Linked DNA regions of Homo sapiens: region 2 is linked to region 1. The links come from fine-mapping of genetic effects on gene expression. Tissue or cell type: whole blood. Region 1 holds a variant in brackets; the other region holds the start of a gene. All regions are shown on one strand. Distances are between the middles of the regions.

Region 1 (10,760 bases):
GAGATGGGGTTTTGCCACGTTGCCCAGGCTGATTTCCAACTCCTGTGCTCAAACAATCCACTTGCTTCAGCCTTCCAAAGTGCTAGGATTACAAGTCTGAGCCACCGCGTCCAGCCCAGGCATTGCTATTCTTAGATAAAACAAATGGTAAAGCAATAAAAATTAAGTAGGACAATGAAGGCCATTATATAATGATGAAGGGTACAATCCAACAAGACTTAACTATCTTAAATATATATTCACCCAACGTTGGAACAACCGATTCATAACACAAGTTCTTCTTGGCCTACAACATGACTTAGACAACCACACAGTTGAGGGAGACCTCAACTCCCCACTGACAGCGTTAGACAGATCATTAACACAGAAAATTAACAAGGAAACTGGACTTAAACTCAACACTTGACCAGTTAGACCTAATAGTTTTCTACAGAACACTCCACTCAACAACCACAGAATATACATTTTTCTCATCTGCACAGGTAAGACTCTCTAAGATCAATCGCATGCTCAGTCATGAAGCAAGCCTCAATAAATTTAAAACAAACCTGGACGGGTGCGGTGGCTCATACCTGTAATCCCAACACTTTGGGAGGCCGAGGCGGGCGGATCATGAGGTTAGGAGTTCGAGACCATCCTGGCTAACACAGTGCAACCCCATCTCTACTAAAAATACAAAAAAAAAAAAAAATTAGCCAGGGGTGGTGGTGGGCGCCTGTAGTCCCAACTACTCGGGAGGCTGAGGCAGGAGAATGGCATGAACCCGGGAGGTGGAGCTTGCAGTGAGCCGAGATTGCGCCACTGCACTCCAGGCTGGGCGACAGAGCGAGACTGTCTCAAAAAAAAAAAAAAAAAAAAAGAATGTAAATTTATTTTCTGATAGTTCTAGAGGCTAGGAAATCCAAGATGAAGGTGCTAGCAGGTTAGGGCCTGGTTTCTCTGCTTCCAAGGTGGTGCCTTGAGCACTGTGTCTTCCAGAGAGGAGAAACACCGTGTTCTCACATGGCAGGAGGTGGGGGCAGGGAGACAGAGATAGAAACTGCTTCCATGGGCCCTTTTTATAGTGGCGTTTCCATTCATGAGCTATACACCTCCCATTGGTCCCCACCTGCCCATACTGTTCCATTGGGCATTAAGCTTTCAACACATGAGTTTTGAGAGATACATTCAAACCATAGCATCCCTTTGTTATTTAGGAGTGTGACATTTAATTTTTCTATGTTTGTGAATTTCCCAAATGGTCTTCTGTTATTGAATTCTAATTTCTACTGTGGCCACAGAATGTACTTTATATGATTTCAGTCTTTCTAAATTTATTGAGGTTTGTTTTATGGCCTAGCACATGGTATGTCTTGGAGAATGTACTGTGTGTGCTTGAGAAGAATGTGTGTTCTGCCTCTGTTGGTTGGAGTGTTCTGTAGATATCTGTTAGTCTGGTTGGATTAACAATGTTCACATCTTCTATATCCTTGTTAATCTTTCATCTAGCTGTTGTATCTGTTCTCGAAAGTTGGGTATGGAAGGCTGGGCATGGTGGCTCACGCCTGTAATCCCAGCACTTTTGGAGGCAGAGGCAGGCAGATCACGAGGTCAGCAGATCGAGACCATCCAGGCTAACACGGTGAAACCCCATCTCTACTAAAAATACAAAAAAAAATCAGCCCGGCATGGCGGCGGGCACCTGTAGTCTCAGCTACTTGGGAGGCTGAGGCTGGAGAATGGTGTGAACCCCAGAGGCGGAGCTTGCAGTGAGCCAAGATAGAGCTCCATTGCACTCCAGCCTGGGCGACAGAGGGAGACTCCATCTCAAAAAAAAAAAAAAAAAAAAGAAAGTTGGGTATGGAAGTCTCCAACTATTACTGTTCAATTGTCCATTTCTCCTTTCAGTTCTGTGGTTCATTTTTGCATCATATTGGGTCTCTTTCGTTAGTTGCATATGTTTATAACCGTTGTGTCTTCCTGATGAATTGACACTTTGTTCATTATAAAATGTCCCTCTTTATCACTTGTAACATTTTAATTTATTTTTTATTATTTATTTATTTATTTATTTAATTTTTGGGACAGGGTCTCTTGCTCTGTCACCCATGCTGGAGTGCAGTGGTGCCATCTCTGCTCACTGCAAGCTCCGCCTCCCAGGTTCAAGTGATTCTCCTGCCGCAGCCTCCCTAGTAGCTGAGATTACAGGCACTTGCCACCAACCCAGATAATTTTTGTATTTTTGGTAGAGATGGGGTTTCACCATGTAGGCAAGGCTGGTCTTGAACTCCTGAGCGTAAGTGATCCACCCACCTCCGCCTCCCAAAGTGCTGGGATTACAGGCGTGAGCCACCACGTCCGGCCTCTTGTAACATTTTTACAGTCTATTTTGTCTCATATTGATATAGCCATTCCAGCTTGCTATGGTTGCTGTTTTCACGGTATGTCTTTTTCCCATCTTTTTACTTTCAGCCTGTTTGTATCTTTGAATCTAAAGTGTATTTCCTGTAGACAGCATATAGTTTGTTTTTTAACCAAGCCTGACATCTCTGCCTTCTAATTGGATTGTTTAATCTGTTCACATTTAAGGATTTTGTTATATGGTTGGATCTGTGTCTGTCATTCATGTTTTCTATGTCTCATGTCTTTCTTTGTTCTCTCCTACCTTATTTACTACATTCTTTTGCATTCAGTAAATATTTTCCAGTGTCACATTTTGGTTACTTTAATAATTCTTTAACTATATTTTTCAGTTCTTTTCTTTGTGGTTCCTCAAGAGAGGGGATGAGAAATGCTGGCAGCCCATGCCTCCCAGTGTGATATGGTGAGCTTGAGTGGCAGCTGAGCAAGGAGGGAACCACCTACTCTTAACCCGACCTACCTGGAGCAGAGCCTCCATCACTCTGAGCTGGGGGAAGGAGGAGAAGGGAGTGGGTTGTAGCTCAATATCACAGAGACTCATGGTTCTTTCTGAATTTTTGTAGATTTTCTAGAATAAATATTTCTTCATTTGCTGTATGCCCTTAGGACAATTTCCAGACACTTTATTTATTTATTTATTTATTTATTTATTTATTTATTTAGAGACAAAGCCTCACTTTATCACCAGGCTGGAGTGTACTGGCACGATCTCGGCTCAGTGCAGCCTCGAACTTCTGGGCTCAAGGAATCCTCCCACCTCAGCCACCTGAGTAGCTAGGACTGCGGGTGCATGCCACCTTGTCTGGCTAATTTTTAAAAATTAGGTGCATGCCACTGTGCCCAGCTAATTTTTGTATTTTTAGTAGAGACAGGGTTTCACCATCTTGGCCAGGCTGGTCTCGAGCTCCTGACCTCGTGATCCGCCCGCCTCGGCCTCCCAAAGTGCTGAGATTACAGGCGTGAGCTACCACACCCAGCCTGCACCCAGCCAATTTTAACCTTTTAAAGAGCTGGTGAGAGCTGTGGCTCTTGCCTTTTAATTTTAAGTTCTGCTGATACAGACAAGACTTGACTCTTTTTAGAGGCAGGTCTTCAAAGGTTGCGTCGTCGTCCCCCAGCTCCCTGCCGCAGTACACTCTGCTTCGATTCTAAGTCGGGGAGGAGGAGGTTCACCCAGATTGGATCACAGCTTTAATTTGCATTGCTTACAAAATGGATGTCCCCGCAAGCTGACAGAAGCTGTTGTGTGCATGTGTGCACGTGTGTGTGTGTGAATGTACACAACAATTTAAACAGATAGTGGCAGACTATATTTAAAGCCTACAGACTGGCTGTTCATTAAGGAGAAGATGGGAGCAGACACTCACTGGGTTCCCAGGGGAAGCTGACTTTGATGTTGCCCAGGAGCTGGGCTGAGTCTGTGAGGAATAACCAGAGACAGGATTTACCAGGAGAGGCTGTTTTCTGGACGACGTTGAAATATGTGATGCCATTGACTTTGAAACCCGCAGATCATTCTCTTTGTCTTAAGAAAAGTTCTTTCAACATCTTCAAAACAATCTGTCCAGTGGTGGGGGCTGGGGAGAGCGTTCGCAGCATGGCCACTGCGTGCAATCCCCGACCATCCCTGGAGGACCGATTCTCGCTCAGAACCCTTGTTCCTCCTCCTCCCGGCCCCTGTCCTGGTGTTGGTTCCTTTTCTGTGGTGTCCACACATTTCCTTTGCGTTCTGGTTCTGCGTGGGAAGAACCCTGCAGCTTGGGAGCTTTCCATCCATCTCTATTTTTTTTGGTTGGTGACTCTTGGCGGCTCTCTGTGGGGACATTGGTGCTCTCCAAGAAGGTACTTCTTGAATCAGTGACCGACTTCTTCCCCTATAGGTTAATGTCACCAGTTTTAAAACTTCCTACAAATGGAATCATATAGTCTGTGCTTTATTTGCATCTGGCGTCTTTCATGAAATTGTATCACTCATGAGATTCATGTGTGCTGCCCTGCGTAGCAGTAGTTCCATTGTCATTGCTGTGGAGTATTGCACTGCACACACAGACAATTTGTTTCTCCAGTTACCATTGATGGATATTTGCATTGTTTTGAAGTTATTGTGAGTAAGGCTGCTGTGAACATTAGTGTACAAGTCTTGTAGTGGACATGGATTTCATCTCCTGTGGACAAATACCGAAGACAGAATTGATGGTTGTTAGTTAGGTATATTGGTCTGCTTGTGTGGCCATAGCAGAATGCCATAGACTAGGTAACTTAACAGAAATTTCTCACAGTTCTGGTCTGGGCAGTCCAAGGTCAAGGTGCTGGCAAGGTGGATTTCATTCTGAGGCCTCTTCTCTTGGTTTGTGCCTACAAGTTGTCTCCCTATGTGTGTACCTGTGATTACTTCTTTGTGTAGGTGCATGGTGTAGTGAATTCCTACAATTTTATGTTGCCATGGAATCCATTTTTGTTGTTGTTGTTTTTTGAGACAGAATCTCACTCTGTCACCTACACTGGAAGTCAGTGGCGTGATCTTGGCACACTACAACCTCTGCCTCCCGAGTTCAAGCGATTCTGCCTCAGCCTCCCGAGTAGCTGGGATTACAAGCATGCACCACCACGCGTGGCTAATTTTTACATTTTTAGTAGAGACAGGGTTTCACCATGTTGGCCAGGCTGGTGTCAAACTCCTGACCTCAAGTGATCCATCCACCTTAGCCTCCCAAAGTGCTGGGATTACAGTCATGAGCCACCATGCCCGGCCCCCGTTTTGAATTTAAGTTGGACTTTCTCATACCAGAAGCATGGCATAATTACCCTTAACACCATTTCCAGTTCTTTAACTCCTTCCAGTTCCTCAAAGTGGTCAACTCAGATATCTGCCATGTACAGCCACCTCCCAGGCACCACCTCCCTGGAGGGGAGCTGGATACAACGTACTTGACTCACCCTCTGACCCCTCACCCTGCGTGGTCTGCCCTTGACTCACCCTCTGACCCCTCACCCTACGTGGTCTGCCCAGATACACCACAGTGCCCACTTCCCAGTCACAGCATGATCACCTGGAGCTCGTGCCTGCTTGCTCTAAACAATCAATTAGAGCTTCCTATGGGAAACTTGCTGGGGTCACACCCTGGACCCCAATAAAGGCTTTAGTCCTAGAGGTCCTCTCTCTTTCAGTCCCCACCTGCTGGCTAAACGTGGGTATCCTGAATGGCTCCCCACTTCCTGCTGGCCCTGCGAGGCATGGTGCCCTCCTCTCTCTGGGATCTGTGAGTAATCAACTACTCCTGCTATTTCATGTGTTTTATTGCACACACTGTGTCTCACCTGACTGACACACCCGAACCCAACCCTCCTCATCAGGGCTGCCCTAGAGAGTGGCTGTCTTGGTAGGAATAAATTGAACACAGGTCAGACAACAGCTACAAGGGCATCGTCCTCTATATACAAGCTTCCTGTGAAAGGGACATCTGTCACAGGTTGAGCACTTGGGCATGAGGCCACCTGCCAGGATCAAGAAGGATCCTGTGAAAGGTAAACTGTAAACATTCCTTTTATGAGCAACATGCTTGGTGCCCTGTGAGGGCAGGGTTATTGTTTGTAGCCACTCTCCAGAAAGAGATGCCTCAAGACCACATTAGAAAGAAATTACAACACAGGAAGAGAGAGGGCAAGTTCTCTGGAGTCTCTTTTTATAAGGATGCTAATCCCATTGCAAGGGCCCCATCTTCATGACCTCCTTTAACCCTAATTATCTCCCAAAAGCCCTGTCTCCAAAACCATCACAGTGGAAGTTGGGGCTTCAAGATATGAACTTAGGAGGGGACACAAACATTCTGTCCATAGCAGTAGGTGATGTTTAACTCTATTCCAAACTGCTATAGTTTTCCAAGGTGGTTGTATCACTGTACACCCCCAAGAGCAGTGTATAAGAGTTCTGACCGCTCATATACTCACCAGCACTTGCTAGTGGCATCTTTTTCATTTTAGCCTGACTATATAGTGGTATCTCATTGTAGTTTTAATTTGCATTTCCCGGAAGACAGATGACGTTGAGCACCTTTTCATGTGTTTATGGGCCATTTGTATATATTCCTTTGCAAAATGTCTGCTCAAGTCTCTTGCAAATTAACATCTCAGTCTTAGAAGTCTCTGTGAAACATGCTTATTTGGTAGGAAAGGATACAAGCAGGTCTGAAGACAGTCGAGAATTGCAGTGATGCTGGATGTCCCCAAGTAGACAGAGCAATTTCTTATTCTCCCAGCTGTAAATTAAATTTCATTAAACCTCTAATTGCCGTATAAACTTAAACTGTCC[C/T]TTAGCCGCTTGTTCAAGTTAACTCAACGTAGCCTCTCTTAACTTTCTCCTGGCAAATTTACTTTTCCCAAATGAGGGTTCTGCTGGTGGGAAAGGCCCCTGAAAGGCCCAGCTGAATTTTATCAAACTCAGTTCAGTTATTTCATGTTGGTTAAGAACTTTCATCTCAAGTAATTTACCGGAGGAGAGGCTCTGCATTCTGCTGATATGTTTCTCAATGTTTAGCTGTGGACCTGAGCTGGGGCACAGCCTTGTGCCTTCAGATGGTCCCAGTTGGGAGCAAATTGCTCTACCACCCGTAAGACCTCAGTGTGTCACGTTCCGCTTCATCCCACGGTTCCGATTCTGCAATCATCTTTTACACTTTTCTTATATGACATTTAACAGAAATTGTCTAATAATATAACAAATAAGGACCTGAACCTGTAATCATATTACAGGTTCAGCATATCATTATACCCATGCCAGTTAGTAACACTAATTGAAATCCAAATCTAATCTTCTTGAAGAAGACTAAAGCTATTAGGTTTGAGCAACACGTTTGTAATCGAGCCAGTTCTAACAAGTGGTCCACACTTACTCTATTCTCATTCATGTTATTATTGACATTATCTTAATACTTTCCATTTCTTGGTTTGGCAATACATCAGTCTGAGAAATATGACTTAGTGGTGCAAATAACACGGACTTATGCTGGTCTTAGTCACCTCCAGTGAAGAATCCTATGGGTGGCAACATTTCAATCTTCGCTGCCTGTTTGAGACGATATGATTCTTTTTTCTTCTGAGACGGAGTCTCACTCTGTTGCCCAGGCTGGAGTGCAGTGGTGCCATCTCGGCTCACTGCAACCTCTGCCTCCTGGGTTCAAGCAATTCTCCTGCCTCAGCCTCCCTAGTAGCTGGGACTATAGGTGCGTGCCACCATGCCCAGCTAATTTTTTGTATTTTTAGTAGAGATGGGGTTTCACCGTTTTAGCCAGGATGGTCTCAACCTCCTGACCCCATGATCTGCCCACCGTGGCCTCCCAAAGTGCTGGGATTACAGGTGTGAGCCACCACGCCCAGCCCAATATAATATATTTTAAGCAGGACAAATTCATAAGAGTCTTAAGAGCTCCTTTCATTAACAAACACCAAGTAGCAATAGCTTGTTTAGCAAAGACCAAGTAGCAGCAAATTGTGTTATGTTAATGTCTTGCTACCACAGAATATTCTCTGCAAATATTTCAAGTTAACCTTTAAAGTTTTCCCCTGCAGCTGAATGCCTAAAGCAGCACATTCACAAAGCGCATGATTCTGTGTTGGAGGAACAGAGCCAGGGTGTTCCCAAGGCTTCCAGACACCAGGCAGCTATGACCCACACAGAAGGACAAATCTGAGCAACAATCTTTAAGTTGAGGTAAACGTTTTCTGTCCCAAGAAGGAGAGGTTAATAAATATGGTTAATAAACATACCCATGGGTCTTAACATGAAGAGCTTAGATGATGGATTAGAGCTTCAAAGATTAGATAGGTGTAACTTTTGGGTGATCATCCTCCTGACCAAGTGTTCAGAAATATCTTCTGGCTCAGCAGCCACAGCTTCACCTATTACATTGCCTCACACTATCACATTGCTTCAATGATGTTTGGATTAAATGCAGGGAGCACAGCATGTGAGATTGTCTGTGTCAGACATTGTCCATCAGTGAGAGTAGTCTTTTAAGAAGCACATACAGGCTGGGCTTGTGGATCACACCTGTAATCCCAGCACTTTGAGGGGCTGAAGAGGGAGGATCACTTGAGCCTAGGAGCTCGGGACCAGCCTGGGCAACATAGTGAGAACCTGTCTCTTAAAAGAACAAAAAACAAAAAAAAACCACACACACCCCCCTAAAAATTAGCTGGATGTGGTGGGGGTGGTGTGTGTCTGTAGTCCCAGCTATGCAGGAGGCTGAGGTGGGAGGATTGCTTGAGTCCAGCCGTTGGAGGCTGCAGTGAGCCATGATTGTGCCACTATACTCCAGCCTGGGTGATGGAGAGAGACCCTGATTCCAAAAAAGGAAAATCTAAATTAAAAAACAAACAAAAAAAAGCAGCTAAGCGCAGTGTCTTACACCGGTAATCCCAGCACTTTGGGAGGCCGAGGTGGGTGGATCACCTGAGGTCAGAAGTTTGAGACCAGCCTGGTCGACATGGTGAAACCCTGCCTACACTAAAAATACAAAAATTAGCCAGGTGTGGTGGCACACACCTGTAATGCCAGCTACTCGGGAGGCTGAGGCAGGAGAATCGCTTGAACCTAGTAGGCGGAGGTTGCAGTGAGCCAAGATCCCTCCACTGTGCTCCAGCCTAGGTGACAGGGTGAGACTCTGTCTCAAGAACAAAAACAAAAAAAGCACGCACAGGTATTCAGCAGCTGTTTCTTCTGATGTGTCAAGTGACAGCTCAGGTAAGAAGAACTCACGCTGGCTTTGAAGCCCTAAGCCCTACCAGACCCACTATCTTATAGTAACCTATGAATATAGTGAGTGTGGTTTTCAGTGTTCCTGCAAGGGGCTTGCCAAGTTCAGATACAGTTTACCAACCAGGAGTCAGGCTTGTCATAAGCAGTGTTGCCTAGTAGTGAAACTGATGAGTGTTTCTAGCAGGTTACCAAGGCAATCAGAACTATAAATAAGTTGCTTTAGGAACATAGTTGACGTGCTTTCTTGGTAGGTAGGGGAACTGCGGTAGTAAGCTAACCCAAGGTCAAATTGTTTTACAGAGATGGATAAAGGATTTTGTTAACTCATTTCCTATCCCTATCATCTATCCCCTTGATCTTTGGTTAATTTTTTTTTAATTAAACTTTGATTTTTGAGATAATTGTTGGTTCACATGCTGGTATAATAAATAATCAAAGACATCCTATGTATGCTTCACCCAGCTTCTGCAATGGCAACATCTTGCAAAACTATAGTGTAATAACACACTGCTTATTTTTTTAAATATAGAAAAGAATATAAGTTAATATACTCATGATCACCAGGATTTGAATTATAAAATGGGCCATTAACATCCCACTTATTCCTTAAATAATTAGGTCGTTGTGGCCAGGTGCAGTGCCTCAGGTCTGTAATCCCAGCACTTTGGGAGGCCGAGGCGGGAGGATTACTTGAGGCCAGGAGTTAGAGACCAGCCTGGCTAACATGGTAAAACCCTGTCTCTACTAAAAATACAAAAATTAGCCAGGCATGGTGATGTGCACCTGTAATCCCAGCTACTCAGTAGGCTGAGGCAGGAGAATCACTTGAACCTGGGAGGCGGAGGTTGCAGTGAGCCGAGATTGCGCCACTGTACTCCGTACTCTAGCCTGCCTGGGCAACAGAGCGAGAGTCCACCTCAAAAATTTAAAAAGAATTAAAAAAAAAATTAGCCAGGTGTGGTGGCGCATGCGTGTAGTCCCAGCTACTCGCGAGGCTGAGGCAGGAGAATCACTTGAGCTCAAAGGCAGAGGTTGCAGTGAGCTGAGATCACATCACTCATTCCAGTCTGGGTGACAGAGGGGGACTCTGTTTCAAAAGAAAAAAAAGAAAGGTCATTGTTTGGGTCAAAATAATTTCATAGTATCCATAGTATTTTTGTAAGCAGTGTTATCTAATAGTATGACAGTGCTTAACATGCAAAGTGTAGTATTAATTGACAGAAATAACATATCAAACCAGAGTATAGTATCACTTGTTTTCTAAAAATAAATGCTATTGTGTACACTTGAGGATTACAACATATTATGGGATACATATAGCTAGTACAGCAGTTACTGTAATGAAGCTGATTAACATATCTATCATCTCACGTAGTTACTTTTTTGTGACGAGCAGCTAGAATCTATCGAACACAAATCCCTAGTACATTACAATCGTATTAACCTTAGCCCTCATGTTGTACATTAGATGTCTAGACTCGTTCATCCCACATATCTGCTATTTTGTGTCCTTTGACTCACATCTCCCCATTTCCTCGATCACTTTCATACTTCAGCAAGTGTTTCTTTTAGGTATCTCAAAATTAACATGTTTTTAAAATAGGAT
Region 2 (10,560 bases), 340 kb before region 1:
GCAGATCACTTGAGGTCAGGAGTTCAAGACTAGCCTGACCAATGTGGTGAAACCCCCGTCTCTACTAAAAATACAAAAATTAGCCGGGCGTGGTGGCGGGCGCCTGTAATCCCAGCTGCTCAGGAGGCTGAAGCTGGAGAATCGCTTGAACCCGGGAGGAGGAGGTTGCAGTGAGCCGAGACAGCGCCATTGCACTCCAGCCTGGGTGTCACAGTGAGACTCCATCTCAAAAAAAAAAAAAAAAAAAAAAAGACTAGAAAGGTGGGTGACCTTGGATTCATGATACTACTGCTGGAACTCATTTTCCTCTGGAGATAACGAGGGTAGTGACCGATTCTAGTTTTATGTAATTGTTTAGGGGAGTTTTCTTAAGCAATGCCCGTCAAGTGCTTGGCATATGAACCCTTAGCTGTTAGTATCTCTGTGTTAGGCCTATCGACTTTGGTAGGGGTGATGGGGCAGGCGGTGCAGCTGGAGAGGCCCGATCACGAAGGGCCCTAAATGTCAGAGCACAGAGCGTGGGCTGAATCCTGTGCCCCGGAGAGCGGTGGGAAGGATTCGTAGAGGGGAATGTGCTGCTTAGACATGCATTTTGGAAGCCCCCTTCCCTGCAGAGAATCCAGGACTGGTCCAGTAGAGGAGACGGGGAGATGGGGTAGGGTGTCCGCTCACTTTCTAGCAGGTCCACCTCAAAGTCCTTGGTGGGCAGACGCACGGAGTTGAAGCCCCAGGTGGGGATGTGGCCTTCCAGCGGTGGCTTCCCCGACAACACGCGCAGGAACGTGCTCTTGCCTGCGCCATCCAGCCCCAGCACCAGCACCTCGCGCTGTTCCAGCTCCTCCAGCGCCGGCTCCTCGTCCTCCTCGTCCTCGGGCTGCGGGGAAGCGGAGGTAAGGTTGCGGCTGGCGGCCTCCCGAAGGACCTTTCCCGAGGGAAGACCGAAGGCACCAGAGGGCCCAGGCCCGCCTTCCACCCGTCCTGGGACAGGCAGGCATGGTCTGGATGAGTGGGACGAACGCCGCCTTTGCAGTCCTGAATTCCAAACCCTTGGCGAATTCCTTAAACGCTCGCGCGCCCCGCTTCCTCCACCGGTCTCGGAGTCCCGACCGCAGGCGGGAGGGGATGGGGTTTCTCCCGACATCCCCACCCCCGGGCGGGGTGCACTGCGCAGGCGCCGGAGGGGCGCGAGCCGACCCGGCTGGGCCCCGGGATGCTCCCGAGCCGCGCCCTCCAAACTCCGGCCCCCGCTGGAACACCCGAGCCTCATGGCGTGGAGCGACGGCGTGGCGCCAAGGCGCCGCACGCACCCAAGCACACCCACCCGTTCCTCGGTTCCCGGGCTCTGACCGCCCACCCGCGCGGGGCCTGTGCGCTGCGGCTGCCAAGCCCTCGACCCCCCAAGCTCCCGGCACCAGCAGGGCCGTTCCGTGGTCACACCCCTTGGCCACATGCGCGGAGTCGCAGCCCAGCCTGCCCGCCCTTCCGCAGGCCTCGGCCCGGCACTCACGTCCCACTCGTCCCACTCGGGGAGGCGGGCAGCCTCCGCGCCCCACCAGGCCTCTCCCCGGTCCCAGCGCCGCTCTCGGCCGCGGCCGAAGTAGGTCTTCCAGAGGATGAAGAGCACCGAGCCCAGCACCGCCGCGGCGCCGCCCAGCGCCAGCACCAAGGGGCCCAGCGGCCGCGGCGCCATCGGGCCGGGCGAGGGACGCAGGTGCGGGTTGCACAGGCCGAGCCCACTCGCCCGCCGAAGATGGCCCCGCTGCGACTGCTGCGGCCGCGCCCACCCACCCAGACCCAGTCCCGCACTACAAGCCCCACAATGCACTGCCGCTGTCACGGCAGGCCGCCCGGGACCCGGCGGCGTGGGTGGTGGGGCGCTGGCCGGCGCGCGGGGACCTCCGGTCCCCCTGCCAGGTGCAGGGTGGAGGAAGGAGAGGCTGTGCCTGGGGAGGACGGGAGACGGCGGTGCTTGCTAGCATCCACCAGGGGTTAGCTCACGGCTTTTCTCCGTTACCCCTTACAATGATACCACGCAGAAGGGAAAACCGAGGCCCAGGAGTTAAGTAACCCGCCCAACGCCGCATCGTAGTGCTTTGGTGTAGCCTGCGTTCAAACCCAAGCGATCTGTCTCCCGGTCATCCCTCAAGACCTCGGGAGGAAATTGAAGCAAGACGCCCGATATCACACGGCAGTGGGGTGGCAGAGGCAGGAATAGAACCCAGGTCCGTGGCTCCCCGCCACCTCTAGCCTTCTTTCGCTGCCTCCCGGACCACAGGGGTTTTGCTGGGGTCCTGGTCAGGCTGAATTAAGCAGTGTCAGGACTTCAGAATGTTTAGGGCTGACTGCCTTGTCCTAGGTACCCCCAGTGACTGCCAAGGCTTCCACGTGTGTAGCACGAGGAGGAAGAACAGGAGAAACGACCTGAGTACAGCAGTCGGGTTCTTTTGGCTCTCCAGAGGGGTGACGCCATGTACGGCTGGCTGTAGGGTACATGGGTCGAGAGACCGCCTGTGGCTCTCAGGGCCCAGCAGGGCTACCTCTTCCCCTTTATATTGTCTCAACTCTTCACCTCCTTTTAGTTTGCGATTCCTCTGTACCCCTGGCTCTGGGTCCCAGCCCCTATTCCTTCTGATTTGTCCCCCTTTCCCTTTGACTACATATATATGCTCCTCTCCTCCCAGATAGTGATGTTTTAGCTACATCTTATTTCTTCCGGCATTGATTCTTTTGAAAAATTTATTTCTGGCCGGGTGTGGTGGCTCATGCCTGTAATCCCAGCACTTTGGGAGGCCGAGGCAGGCGGATCACCTGAGGTCAGGAGTTCGAGAATAGCCTGCCTAACATGGTGAAACCCCATCTCTACAAAAATTAGCCGGGCGTGGTGGCACGTGCCTGTAATCCCACCTACTCAGGAGGCTAAGGCAGGAGAATCGCTTGAACCCAGGAGGAGGAGGTTGCAGTGTGCTGAGATTGCGCCACTGCCCTCCAGCCTGGGTGACAGAGCAAGAATCCGTCTCAAAAAAAAAAAAAAAGAAAAAAAAATTAGCTCCTCCTCAAAAATACACCCACTTAGAGGGGAAAACCCACAAAATTGCTAAGATTAAAAGTTTGGCTGGTGCGGTGGCTCACGCCTGTGATCCCAGCACTTTGGGAGGCCGAGGCAGCCGGCCGGATCACGAGGTCAGGAGATCGAGACCATCCTGGCTAACACGGTGAAACCCCATCTCTACTGAAAATCCAAAAAATTAGCCGGGCGTGGAGCCGGGCGTGGTGGCAGGCGCCTGTAGTCCCAGCTACTTGGTAGACTGAGGCAGGAGAATCGCTTGAAACTGGGAGGCAGAGGTTACTGTGAGCCGAGATTGCGCCACTGCATTCCAGCCTGGGCAACAGAGCGAGACCTTGTCTCAAAAAAAAAAAAAAAAAAAATGTTTACAGTCTATTATTTGTGGAAAAGAAATAGGTGCTCTCACATAGGTGCTATGCACCAAGACCATGACAGCTTCAGACATTGGTACCACAAATATCAGGGATAAAGTTTTTTTTTTTTTTGAGATGGAGTCTCACTCTGTAGCCCAGGCTGGAGTGCAGTAGTGTGATCTCAGGCCTCCCAAAGTGCTGGGATTACAGGCATGAGCCACCACACCCAGCCAGAAATAAATTTTTCAAAAGAATCAATGCCGGAAGAAATAAGATGTAGCTAAAACATCACTATCTGGGAGGAGAGGAGCATATATATGTAGTCAAAGGGAAAGGGGGACAAATCAGAAGGAATAGGGGCTGGGACCCAGAGCCAGGGGTACAGAGGAATCGCGAACTAAAAGGAGGTGAAGAGTTGAGACAATATAAAGGGAAAGAGGTAGCCCTGCTGGGCCCTGAGAGCCACAGGCGGTCTCTCAACCCATGTACCCTACAGCCAGCCGTACATGGCGTCACCCCTCTGGAGAGCCAAAAGAACCCGACTGCTGTACTCAGGTCGTTTCTCCTGTTCTTCCTCCTCGTGCTACACACGTGGAAGCCTTGGCAGTCACTGGGGGTACCTAGGACAAGGCAGACTGCAGCCTCCGTCTCCCAGGTTCAAGAGATTCTCCTGCCTCAGTCTCCAGAATAGCTGGGATTACAGGCACCTGTCACTACGCCTGGCTGATTTTTGTATTTTAGTAGAGACGGGGTTTCGCCGTGTTGGCCAGGATGGTCTCGAACGCCTCAGCCTCTGAAAGTGTTGGGATTACAGGCCTGAACCACCGTGCCCAGCCAGAAAAAGTTGTTTTAATCAAATAGTAACTTCCAGGAAAGTCTTAAGTTTTCATGTATTTGTGGCTAAGAAATAAATGAGATGATCCCACCTTATGATCTACATAAGGGTGCAAAGTGCTATTTCTTCCTTTTCTGACTGAGAGGTGATATACATCCCTTCCTGTGGTGGATAAAGAGCAAGGTGCCAGCTTTGCTTCCACAGAGGTTAAAAAATATGGCATATTTTAAAAGCTCCAAATTAACAAAGGAACACCTTTAACACACACACGCACGCACACATATACACACAATTATACTGCAATGTAATTGTGCTGTTGATAAGCTAATTATAGAATTCATCAAAGACTTTAATTCTTAGTGCACTCAAGCACCCTGGTCTGGAAACAGCGCTTAAGTTTCAAGTCGCATGAGCAAGGCCTCTCAGTTCTGCCAGTACGGCTGGAAGCCTCAAATGCTGAAATCTAAATGTGACATTCACCCTGCACCACCAATCATAGCTCTCCTGAGATGAGTTTTGATGGCGAGCTTTGGACTGGGGTAGAAACGTGGATAGATTTTTGCAAATTCTGCTGTAACTTCGTTGCTTCGCCTTCTTTGTGAACCCTTCAGGGATAAGAGAAGTCTTCCTTCAGGATGTGACTGACACCTCAGCTGGCGCCTCTAAGCCTCACTCTCCTTTATGTAAAAGAGAAATGATATTAGGATCGCCTTCCCTAGGGGAGGCAGGTGAGGTCGGTTCCCTTTTTTGGTTCAGCTACTAGTACGAACCCTGCCTAACCCCGCTGTTTTGGGAGACAGTCCGTGCTCACTGCACCGCTTGCTAATCGAAGTGACTTCTCATCTCTCCCAGTCTCAGCTTCACCTCCGTGAAGTGGGAAAAACAGGATGACAAGTGCTCGCACTTGGCAGCCCTTTTTGAGCCTTGAGGGCTTGGGTTTGTGGGTGTCATTTTACTATGCTACCTCCGTCTTCCCTTAGCTTGTCACGGACCCAGGCACAGCACACGCGCTGAGGAAGTGGTGGTGAAGTGTGGCGTTTCCTCTCGGGGCTGGCGGATTCCACACTCGGAGCTGCGGCTCCACAACTCGCTGGGCGGCGAAGGGCATGGGGAGGGGGCGGGTCTCGCGATCGTGGACAACAACTCCCAGCATGCCCTGTGCTCCGCTGGGCCAAGTCTCGCGCGAGATCCCGCGGTCTCCGGAGGCTTTATCTGCAGTGCTGCCTGCCCGCTGGGTGGTACTGCTACCTAGTGGGTCTTGGGGACCTTCGAAATCGCCGCCGCTCTCACAATGGCTTGGGTCCAGACTGCGCCACAGCCTCTCGGGAGACGTGGGCCCTCGGAACCTTTTTAGTGCCGGACTCCGGGCCGCAGGCAGTCCCGCGGCAGCAGGATCACAGGTGAACAGATGGCGGGCCTGGGCCCTCCCTTGGGGCTGCGTTCTCTGGCGATCAGGAGGGGCGCTTCCGGCGAGGCCCGATCTCGGGGCCCCTCCAAGCCACTCCCCTCTCCCCGCACCTCTTAACCCTTCATCCCGGCTTCGAGCTCGGCTGGGTCGCCTCTTGCCTCCCTGGCTCCGCTCTCTGGGGTCTCCGTAATGGGGCTTCTCTCCGGGAATGCCCTGCAGCTCCCGTACGGGCTTCCCCTCCGCTTCGTGGGACCAGCCCAGCCCGAGCCCCCGCGGCTTGTCCTCAACCTCATCTCCCCACACCCCGCCTTCGGCTAGGGTCCTGGCCCTAATCTTAGCCTGGAGGGGTGGGTGAAGCAGCCGGCCTTTCGTATCCTGGCGGCACCGTCTTGTATATTGTGAAGGAGAGGCAGAGGGACGGTGAGCTGGGGGGTGGGGGCACAGGGAAAGGGAAAGGGGAAGGGGACGTGTCTGGGGCGGGAATGCTCCCTGGACTGGGAGGATGGCTGAATTCGGCCTTTGCGATGCTCGTTAGTGAAGAACTATCAATAACTTGTTTGCTCTGTCTGAGTCCTATCGGGATAGAGGGACGGTGTAGCAAGCTGAAAAACAAGAGTAACTTTCTCAGGCCCTCGTTTTAACTCCCCTGTAAACTGGGCATGAAACTACCTACCTTGCGCACGGACCACTTATCTGTGACCGTGGACAAATTTACTTAACTCCTCTGATTTTTAGTTTCCTTCTCTTTATTATTATTTTTAACATTTTTTTAATTTTTTTAATTTTTATTTTTGAGACCGAGTCTCACTCCGTCGCCCAGGCTGGAGTACAGTGGCTCGATCTCGGCTCACTGCAACCTCCGCCTCCCGGGTTCAAGCTATTCTCCTGCCTCAGCCTCCCGAGTAGCTGGGATTACAGGCGCCCGCCACCATGCCCGGCTAATTTTTGTATTTTTAGTAGAGATGGGGTTTCACCATGTTGGCCAGGCTAGTCTCGAACTCCTGACCTCAAGTGATCTGCCCGCCTGGGTCTCGCAAAATGCTGGGATTACAGGCGTGAGCCACCGCACCCGGCCAGTTTCCTTCTCTTTAAATTTGGGATAGCCTTTCTGTAAGAGATAGCTTAAAAAAAAAACTGGGGTCGGGCGCGGTGGCTCACGCTTGTAATCCTAGCACTTTGGGAGGCCGAGGTGGGCGGATCGCAAGGTCAGGAGATCAAGACCATCCTGGCTAGTGCGGTGAAACCCCATCTCTACTAAAAATACAAAAAATTAGCCAGGCGTGGTGGCAGACGCCTGTAGTCCCAGCTACTTGGGAGGCTAAGGCAGGAGAATGGCGTGAACCCGGGAGGTGGAGCTTGCAGTGAGCCAAGATCGCGCCACTGCACTCCAGCCTGGGCGACAGAGTGAGACTCCGTCTCAAAAAAAAAAAAAAAAAAAAATTGGGATTGGGATAAATAATATCTGCTTTGCCATCTTGCTGCAAGGATTAAAAGACAAGATAAACGCTGTAAATAGTTTATAGTGTTAGCTATAAAGAACAAATTTCCCTACTGTAGTATCTAGCCGCTTGCTGTGAGTTAAGAAAATGAAATGAGCAAGGTTGTTGTGGGGAATAAACAAGTGTTTGGCAGACTCTGACGGGCTGTTCCAATGCTGGCTGTTTGTTGTTATTAGAACCTCTGGATGGACTCTTCCTGGGAAGCTTTGCTACTTTGCAGCAGCTGGACCATGTTCCTCATTAACATCTGTCTGTCCGCTTAGTCATCACATCATTTCACTGTGGTAAGGTGACTTTTTCACCATGTATGGCATCTTAGCTCTGTCATCTCACAGGTGTTAAGATCAGCCACAGGTGTGGTGAGACGTTTGACTTTATCCTTCTTTTTTCATTGGCATGTTTGTCACCCACTGGCTCTTGCATGTGTGTTTCAACCTTGTAAACAAGCCGTTCAATTCTGTGTGCCTGCCAGAAGAACAGCATTGGTGCTGCTCACCATAAGAAAATGCCCTTTGTTATTTTATTAGGTGGCAGGGACTCAGCTCGGAATTCTGTATAGAAAAAGCACCTGGATCCCAGTCTTTCAATGGCTTCAAGACAACCAGAAGTGCCTGGTAAACTTAATTCTTTTTGGTAAAATCATGTTTTGCCCTTATTAATGTTTTAAGCTAGACAGAAACCATTTTATCGGAACTATATATTAATGGTTAATCTCTGCTACCAAGCGAGTATTTAGATTTACTAGATTGGCTTATTTTATTTTATTTTATTTTTTTGAGATGGAGTCTTGCTCTGTTGCCCAGGCTGGAGTGCAGCGGCACAATCTCGGCTCACTGCTACCTCCGCTTCCTGGGTTCAAGCCATTCTCCTGCCTCAGCCTCCCCAGTAGCTGGGATTACAGGTGCCCGCCACCACACCCAGCTAATTTTTGTATTTTTTGTAGAGACGGGGTTTCACCATATTGGCCAGGCTGGTCTGGAACTCCTGACCTTTTTTTTTTTTTTTTTTTTTGAGACAGAGTCTTGCTCTGTCGCCCAGGCTGGAGTGCAGTGGCGCGATCTCAGCTCACTGCAAGCTCCGCCTCCCGGGTTCACACCATTCTCCTGCCTCAGCCTCCCGAGTAGCTGGGACTACAGGCGCCCACCACCATGCCCAGCTAATTTTTTGTATTTTTAGTAGAGACGAGGTTTCACCGTGTTAGCCAGGATGGTCTCGATTTCTTGACCTTGTGATCCGCCCGCCTCGGCCTCCCAAGGTAATGGGATTACAGGCGTGAGCCACCGTGCCCGGCGGAACTCCTGACCTTGTGATCTGCCTGCCTCGGCCTCCCAAAGTGTTGGGATTACAGGTGTGAGCCACCACGCCCAGCCAGTTTTATTTTATTTTTGAGTCTCACTCTGCTGCCCAGGCTAGAATACAGTGGTGTGATCTCAGCTCACTGCAACCTCCGCCTCCTGGGCTCAAGTGATTCTCCTGCCTCAGCCTCGAGTAGCTGGGATTACAGCTGCCTGCCACCACGCCCGGCTAATTTTTGTATTTTTAATAGAGACAGGGTTTCTCCATGTTGGCCAGGCTGGTCTCAAACTCCTGACCTCAGGTGATCCTTCCACCTTGGCCTCCCAAAGTGCTGGGATTACAGGTGTGAGCCACCACGCCTAGCCTTAGATTGGCATCATTTAAATATTTTATTAGCCGCTCAGCCATAGTATGAAACTTTAACTTAAAGAGAATAGTCACTTCATTTAAGGGTATTATGACAAGTTTGTTACTTTCCTAGTTATCAAATAATAATTCAGAATAAGTTGTGCAGTTCTTGTAGTATGTACCAAAGTGATTAAACTCACCTTTTTGGGGGTGATGGGGAGGTGGGATGGAAGTCTTGGTAAAAAGGCACCAGCCTGCTTAAATGGCAGATTGAACTTAATCATGAAAATGCTCACAGCAACCCTTAATGAGTCAAGTTCTGGGTTATTGACACCATTGATGACTACTTGAATTGTTTTATGAGAAAGGAAAGTGATTTTTAATTACATCTGAATCGCTTAATTTCTGATTCTCGGTAAAGTATGATGATGAAGAAAGATGATGGTTCCTATCTCTCGGGGTTGTGAAGATTAAACAAAATATGTAAAAACAGGAGTTAAAAATCAGTGATAAATATGTATTTACTGCCCAGAATGCATTTGGTCTGTCTTTATATGAACATATTTTCCAGTAAATACTAGCTGACTTTATTTGTTTTAGGATGGCTGTTCAGTGGGAGTCTTTAAGATGTTTTTGAAATTGCTCCCCAAGTCTCCCGTATTCCCCAATATAGATCCATCTCTAGTCTTAACATCATCAGCTCCGTTTTAGTTTGTCTTTCATTGTTGCTGTGATTACCACAAACTCCGTGTAGCCGTCGCGAGCCATAGGATTGTGCCCATTCAGTGAATGCTTTGTAGTGTGTTGCATGCAGAGTGTGTGCACCGGCTCAGGTCTGTGTTCCAGTTCCCAGCACACTCTTTCAAGCTAGGTGATATTGGGCAAGTTGATTGTGAAAATGGAAAATTTGAAAATGGGAAGAATATCTGCTTCATGAGGATTAGATAAGATGAGGGATGTAATTGTCTAGCAAGGAGGAAGACTTAGTAATTATTATTTGCTTGTGTGTGTGTTTGAGATGTAATGCACATATCATAAAATTCACCCACTGAAAGTGAACAATGTCGTGATTTTTAGTATATTCACAGGGTTGTGCAAACAACACTACGATCAATTGCAGCACATTTTCTTTTCTTTTCTTTTTTTTTTTGAGATGGAATCTCGCTCTGTTGCCTAGGTTGGAATGCAGTGGCACGATCTTGGCTCTCTGCAACCTCCGCCTCCTGGGTTCAAGCAATTCTCCTGCCTCAGTCTCCCAAGTAGCTGGGACTACAGGCACGTACCACCACGCCTGGCTAATTTTTGTATTTTGAGTAGAGATGGGATTTCACCATGTTGGCTAGGCCGGAACGCCTGACCTCAGGTGATCCACCCACATCAGCCTCCCAAAGTGCTGGGATTACAGGTGTGAGCCACCACACCCATCCAAACTGCAGTACGTTTTCATAACCTCCAAAGGAAAACCTCGTACCATTAGCAGTCGTATCCTCACTCCCCCCACCCACTCCCTGGCAACCTCTAATCCTCTTTTTATTTCTATGGTTTTGTTAATTATTACTAATAGCAATAGTAATAATAATGATAGCTGCTTGGTCCCCTTGCCGTTTAAATGAAACCTTTTGTGGTTTTGGACTTATTGCCAGGCAGGTTGATGTCTTAGAGAGTGTTATTATATGATTTTAGCCACAGGAAAATGTTACCTTTCAGGTAGGTTCTGGACATTAGTTCTGATATGCAAGGATTAGCAAACGAAACAC

Evidence for each region. PIP is the estimated chance that this variant, and not a neighbour inherited with it, causes the effect.
Region 2: KIAA1191 starts here. The variant in region 1 is fine-mapped to the expression of KIAA1191 in whole blood (GTEx, PIP 0.95).

What each region holds. Positions count from the first base shown.
Region 1 is chr5:176,016,017-176,026,776 of GRCh38, reverse strand. All of the region lies in intron 3 of LOC124900194 (a long non-coding RNA gene), which reads left to right. Among named protein-coding and RNA genes, the nearest start is that of THOC3-AS1, 49 kb to the right of the region's middle. The variant C/T (reference allele first, on the strand shown) is at 6,710.
Region 2 is chr5:176,356,694-176,367,253 of GRCh38, reverse strand. KIAA1191 reads left to right here and starts at 5,490. Exons shown (of 9, transcript NM_020444.5): 1 at 5,490-5,652; 2 at 7,336-7,443; 3 at 7,687-7,773. The coding sequence starts at 7,746. It overlaps ARL10 (ARF like GTPase 10), which reads right to left and starts at 1,767. Exons shown (of 4, transcript NM_173664.6): 1 at 1,508-1,767; 2 at 673-874. The coding sequence starts at 1,690. RefSeq lists a silencer at 1,513-1,902 and enhancers at 2,053-2,302, 5,415-5,734.